Homo sapiens: one gene and its partner. The protein of the gene in region 1 purifies or fractionates together with the protein of each later gene. This does not show direct contact. Each region holds a gene or a part of one and is shown on either strand. Other genes may lie near its edges.

Evidence for each region. Proteins that work in one complex are often made in the same cells at the same time.
Region 2: the proteins of BTG3 (region 1) and TMLHE purify together in Homo sapiens (affinity purification with mass spectrometry; one large-scale study listed by BioGRID and IntAct). This does not show direct contact.

Annotation. Positions count from the first base shown.
Region 1 is NC_000021.9:17,606,402-17,609,901, reverse strand, and holds part of BTG3 (protein BTG3), read left to right. Parts: intron 1-749; coding exon of another isoform or gene 750-757; coding exon 758-930; intron 931-3,500. UniProt on the Homo sapiens protein: Overexpression impairs serum-induced cell cycle progression from the G0/G1 to S phase.
Region 2 is NC_000023.11:155,602,953-155,606,452, reverse strand, and holds part of TMLHE (trimethyllysine dioxygenase, mitochondrial isoform 1 precursor), read left to right. Parts: intron 1-3,500. UniProt on the Homo sapiens protein: Converts trimethyllysine (TML) into hydroxytrimethyllysine (HTML).

The DNA of each region.
Region 1 (3,500 bases):
TATGAATACTGCTGTGGGCATTTCTGTGTTCAAGGTTCACCCATATTGTAGCTTGTATTAGTACTCATTCCTTTTCATTGCTGAATAATATTCCATACGTGTGTATAACACAGTATTTGTCCATTCTTTAGTTGGTAAACATATTGTTTTCACTTTTTAGCTATTATGAATACTGCTATGGGCATTTCTGTACAAGGTTTTGGTGTGGACATATGTTTTCATTTCTCTTGGGCAAATAGAAGTAGAATTGGCCGTGTCATATGATAACTCTGTGTTTAACCTTTCTAGGAACTGCCGAACTTTTCTGTTATAAAATAGCTCTACAGTTCTAGATTTTAAAGTAGACTTTTTTTATGTTTTAAAGTTCAAATCATTTCACAGAATTTTAAACTTAGATTATTGCAGCTAAATATTGACACACACAGTAACATCTATGTCGTATCATTTATTATAGTGCTTCTCTTTTACTGATAGGTGTGGTTTTATTTTAGCCAACAGGAGCAACGTGCTATCTTTATGGAATTTCTTCATGAAGCTAAGTGATAAGATTTTTAAGTAGTATTTTATAATAAGGCCTTTATGGCATAAAGATAAGTAGATTGTTCTCTACTTCAGATATAAGCCAAAGAAATACAAGATAAAATTGGAAGGAGGAAGGGGAGAGCTGTAAAGGAGGTATATCTTACAGAGCTTCATCTTCCCAGTTTTTATATTTTGTTTTTCTGAGAAAACATGTTTTATCTTTGCAGGGAAAAAAATGAAGAATGAAATTGCTGCCGTTGTCTTCTTTTTCACAAGGCTAGTTCGAAAACATGATAAGTTGAAAAAAGAGGCAGTTGAGAGGTTTGCTGAGAAATTGACCCTAATACTTCAAGAAAAATATAAAAATCACTGGTATCCAGAAAAACCATCGAAAGGACAGGCCTACAGGTAAAGGATTAGATTGGATTAAGCAGAGGCTGATCAACCCCTGAGGTGGGTTCAAGGCCGGATGATTGAAGGGTGTGCAGACCATGCCTACAGGTGTTTCATCTGCAAAATATAGAACTCTGGGGTGTTTGTATATTTTCTCCTTACTCATTTTAAAACAAGTATTTGTTGGCGGAGTGGTGGAGTCCCACTGCCTGGACACAGGAGGCCAATGCTATGGGGTCAAAGGAGTTAGTCTTTTGTGGTTATAGCCTGGCTCCTAACAGTGCATTTCTGTTTATCACAAATACTTAGGGATTTTCACAATTCTAGAGGACCCCTAATAACACATTAATGGGCATGGTAGGAGTTGAAAGAAGTGAATCTTGCATCTAAAAGTAAATTACATGTTATATGTTCTTTGAAAAAAAAAAAAGTATGGAAAAAGGGAACTAAGATTATCAGACACCTGATATGTCGTTAATACAAGAATAATCTCATTTATATATTTGTGGTAGAAGTCAGTGTAACTATTTTCTAGATGAATGTGACTCACCTGTGATCCACGACTAGTAAATAATGGCTCTGGGATTTGCTTTTCTGGGAGTTTTTTTTTTTTGTGGTATTGTTTTTGCTCTGTCACCCAGTCTAGAGTGCAGTGGTATAACCATAGCTCACTGCAGCCTCAAACTCCTGGGCTCAAGCAATCCTACTGCCTCAGACTCCAAAGTAGCTAGGATTATAGACATGTGCCAACACACCAGGCTAATTTAAAAACAAATTTTTTTTTGTATAGATGGGATCTTGCTGTGTTACCCAGGTGAGTTTCAAACTCCTGGCCTCACGCGATCTTCTCCCTTTGCCTCCCAGAATGTGAGGATTACAGGCGTGAGCCACCATGCCTGGCCAAGGTTCTGGGATTTGAACTCAGGTCTACATGACCCCATGTTTTCATGGGCTTTCTGCACACCACAGTGTTACCACTGTTTTGGCACTGAGAACGAAGGTAATTCTCACTTGGAGCTGTCTTTTGTACTCTGCTGTATAAGGTACATTTACAGCTTAAAGTAAAGAAGAGCAGACTCCTATAAAACATGCCCTGGCATGCTCACTGTAGTATTTATGTGACTGCTCAGGAACCTCAGTTGAGAATGTTCTGCTAAACTCAGCTGCCAAACATTGTCCCATTTTGTGGATGTGGCCACGAGAAATAAAAGTGGAACAGTGACTATAGTGATAACTACAGAAATACTCTTTTATTTGTGTATATTGATGTCCCCAAAGTTTCCTACACAAATCAACACTTTGTGCTTTGATGTCAGAAGGACTTCCTTTCTGCCACTGGGCTCTTGCAAGTACAGCACTATTCAAGGAGTCTAAAAAGGAGGTAAACATATTATTTGCTAATTTCTCATGTACTGAAAGTCAAGTGAGCTTGTGTTCTATTGACAAGAAGAGAATCAAAATAGTTTATTTTCCTTTTCATTTTTAATCCAAAGAGGTTTCCAGTAAATTGGAAAATGAATTAAAATAGAAATGTGCACGCTAACACAGGCTCAAGTCATTTTTTATCTTATCTCTTGATTATCTTAATTTTTTTTTTGCATATTTTCATTTCCAATAGAGTGAACAGCTTTCGTTAAGTTAGAACTGTTGAGGCTTTTTACTCTGATTTAACTGACATTGGATGAAGGCTTTTTGGAAGTGCCAAGCCACCATACTATTACTGAAAAAGGAGGCACTGTCAAGTAAATATTTAAAGGTCAGACAGTGTACAATTTCATTTCCATTAATTCTAAAAACTTGAGAAAAAAACTGAAACGATTAAATTGGCATGTGATCAGAAGTATCATTACTGAGTCATTTTAAAGCTGTATTTGAAGTAGAAAAAATAGTGGGTTGTTACTATTATAAAAATGAATAGAATATAAGATTAACCAAGTTAGTAGAGACTTCAGTCTGTAGAATAGGTGGAGTGTTCTTTCTCTTACAAAATGTTTGTAAGTTGAAATTGTTTTTCTGCAATATAAATAAGATACTTGTAGAGAGCAATTTGGCAATATTATCAAGATCTATAAAAATATTCATACCTTTTGAACAGTAAGTCTCCCAAGAATCTATTCTAGAAGTATAATTAGAAATGCAGACGAACATGTATGAATATGGATGTCTCTTACACTTTGTAATTGCAAAAATGGAAAGAACTAAACTGTCAACATTAAGTAAATGATAGAATATTTTTATGCAACTTTTAAAATTTTGTTTTTGAAGAGTAGTTAATGGATAAGTAGTATGTAGAGTGAAAAAAAATAGTACAAAACATGTAAGGTATGCAGATTTTGTTGAAGCATAGTCTCTGTTTAAGCATCTATATTTATATATAATTTGTAAGCTTAGAGCCTGTATCACCTTAATTGTAGATAAGAAAAACACATACATCTAAGATATATCTTTTTATCCTTAACTGCTTTTGGTCCCAGAGCACATGGGATCTTTCAAATTACCCTATACAATATTAGAATCTATAGCATAAGACCATGTTTTTAAAAGGACTAAGCAGTATTTTACATACTAGAAAATAATTTTTCTCA
Region 2 (3,500 bases), on another chromosome or scaffold:
CTTGGTATAGATTTCTATTTTTATTGTGCTGTGGTCTGAGAATGTGGCTGGTATGATTTTTGTTTTTGTTGGTTTTAAAAATTTTTAATTTGCTGAGAATTGTCTTATGGCTGACTGTGTGGTCAGTAGAGTATGTGTTATCTGCAGATGAGAAGAATGTATAGTCTGTTGTTTTTGGGTGGATTGTTGTGTAGATGTCTGTTAGCTCCACTTGATCAAATGCTGAGTTCAGGTCCCAAATATCTTTGTTAGTTTTCTGCCTCGAGGATCTGTCTAATACTGTCAGTGGGGTATTGAAATCTCCCACTATTATTGTATAGTTATCTAAGTTTCTTCATAGGTCTCTGAAAACTGGTTTTATGAATCCGGGTGCTCCTGTGTTGGGTGCATATATATTTAGGATAGTTAAGTCTTCTTGTTGACTCTTTACCATTTGTAATGTCCTTCTTTGCCTTTTTTCATCATTGTTGGTTTAATGTCTATTTTGTCTGAAATTAAAATAGTAATCCCTGCTTTTTTTTGTTCTTTGTTTGCTTTGTAGGTTTTTCTCCATCCATTTACTTTGAGTCTATGGGTGTCATTGTATGTGATGTATGTGAGATGGGACTCTTGAAGACAGCATACCACCGGGTCTTGCTTCTTTATCCAATTTGCCGTTGGATACCTTTTAATTTTGGCATTTAGCCCATTTACACTTAAGATTAATATTGATATGTGCAGATTTGATCCTGGCATCATGTTGTTAGCTAGTTATTATGTACACTTGATCACGTGGTTGCTTTATAGTGTCAGTGGCCTATGTCTTTAAGTGTGTTTTTGTGGTGGCCAGTAATAGTCTTTTGTTTCCATATTTAGCATTCCCTTAAGGACCTCTTGTAAGGCAGGCCTGATGGTAATGAATTCCCTTAGCATTTGCTTGTCTAAAAAAAAGATCTTATTTCTCCTTTGCTTATGAAGCTTAGTTTGGCTGGATATGAAATTCTTGGTTGGAGTTTCTTTTCTTTAAGAATGCTGAATCTAGGCCCCCAATCTCTTTTGACTTGCAAGATTTCTGCTGAAAGGTCGCTGTTAGCTTGATGGAGCATCTGATGACTATGTGTCTTGGGGATGGTCCTTTTGTATAGTTCTTGCAGAGGTTCTCTGAATTTCCTGAATTTGAATGTTGTCCTTTCTAGTGATGTTTGGGAAATTTTCATGGACAGTATTATGTTTTTCAGCTCTATCATATTAGTTTGGTTCTTTCTTAAAATGGCCATTTCATCTTTCAGCTCCTGTATTGTTTTATTATAATCCTTAAATTCCTTGGATTCAGTTTCAACTTTCTCATGGATCTCAAATGATCTTAATTCCTATCCACATTCTGAATTCTATATCTGCCATTTTAGCCATTTCAGCCTGGTTAAGAATCCTTGCTGGGGAACTAGTGTTGTTTGGAGGAAAAAAGACACTCTGGCTTTGTGGGTTGCCAGAGTTCTTGTGCTGGTTCTTTCTCCTGTGTGTGGGCTAATGTTTCTTTAACTGTGGTGTGATTTGAGTATAGTCAGTTGACCTCATTTCTGGACATTGTCAGAGTGCTGGAGCTTTGTGCGGGGTCTTTATTTGTAGCTGAATTCTTGTTCTTCGTTTCACAGAGGGATATATTAGGTAAGTATTTTTGGTGTCAAAATTTGGGCTGTGATCCAGTAGATGGTGCTTAAGTGTAATGGCCATTAGGTAGGCTCTTGCTCAGCCACATGACTCCTCTATTTCCTTGTGTTTGCGGCCATGCTCCCTCTTGGTGCTCTGAGGGTGTGGGCTCCTCTCCCACTTGAGTGCTGGCTGCAGAGCTTGGCTTGACACTCTTGGGCTTCACATGCAGCCTTCAGATGAGCTCAGGCTTTGTGTTCCCTCCCCAGCTTGGGAGCAGCAGGGGCAGGGACCTTGGCAGTGGCAATTGCAGAGGGCCTTTCACTTGTCTTTTGGGTCTCCACTCCAGAGAAATGCAGAACTACTATCATTTGGAGCATTCATCCTGGGGTGGAGTGGCTGCATTGTGGGCCCGAGCCAGGGAGCCCTGCCTGGTGATGAATGGGGAGGGGGAGAAGGGAGCTCACAGGGAAGACAGACTAGCCTCTTCTTAGGTTGGCTGTGGCATGATGGAGGTATGAGTACAGCACTCAGGGTCTTTGTTCCTTCCCCAATCCAAGGGCAGCAAAGGCAGTACCACTGCAGTGGCAGTCTCAGAGGGCATTTCATTTGCCTCTGGGAGCTCCACCCCAGAGCAACACAGAGCCACTGACAATGGGTATGTTCAGCCACGAGGTAGGGCAGCTGTTCTGTGGGCCCAAGCCAGGGGCCCTGCTTGGTGAAGACCAGGGGGTTGGAGGCTCACAGAGATGAGAGACTTGGCTCTATTCTGTATGGCAACTGTGGCATGTTGGAGGTGCAAGTAAATCCCTCAGGCTCTTTATTCCTTCCCCAGTCTTAGGGCAGCAAGGACAGAGCTGCTGCAATGGCAGTGGCAGAGGGGCTCTCGGTTCTTTATTTTTGATAAAGTCCAAGTTATTTTTTTTCTTTTGTCAATTGTGTTTTTTGATGTTGTATCTAATAATTCTTTGCCCAATCCAATATCATGAAGGTTTTCCTATGTTTCTAAAAGTTTTATACTTTTACGTCTTTCGTTTATGACTCTGATTCATTCTGTGTTATTTTGTGTATGGTGTAAGGTGAAGGTCTTCATTAATCTTTTTGCATATGGATATCCAACTGTACTATCATCATTTGTTGAAAAACTAACCTTTTCCTGTTGAATTGACTTGGAACCTTTTTTGAAAACCAATTGACCATAAATATAAGGGTTTATATCCGACCTCTCAATTGTGTTCCATTAGTTTATATTTCTATTCTTATGCCAGTCCCTACTGTCTTGACTATTGTGGCATTGTAATATGTATTTAAATTGAGAAAGGTGAATCCTAAAATTTTGTTCTTCTTTTTCAACATTGTTTTGGGTATTCTGGGTTCTTTCCATTTCCATATAAATATTAGGATCATCTTGTCACTCTTTCTTTCTTTCTTTCTTTCTTTCTTTCTTTCTTTCTTTCATTCTTTCTTTTCTTTTCTTCTTTCTTTTCTTTCTTTCTTTCGACAGGGTCTTGCTCTGTTGCTCAGGCTGGAGTGCAGTGACACAGTTGCAGCTCATTGCATCCTCAACCTCCCAGGCTCAAACGATCCTCCCACCTCAGTCTCCTGAGTGCCTGGGACTACAGATGTGCATCACTATGCCTGGCTATTTTAACAATATTTTTGTAGAGATGTGGTCTCCCTATTTTGCCCAGGCTGGTCTCAAACTCTTGGGCTTAAGCTATCCTCCTGCCTTGGCCTCCCAAAGTACTGGGATTATAGGCATGAACCATCATGCCCAGCCTCTGCTTTGATTTTGGTAGCGATTGCACTGAATCTATACATCAGTTTGGGGAGAACTGCCAACTAACAGTATTGGATTTTTCAATCCATGAACT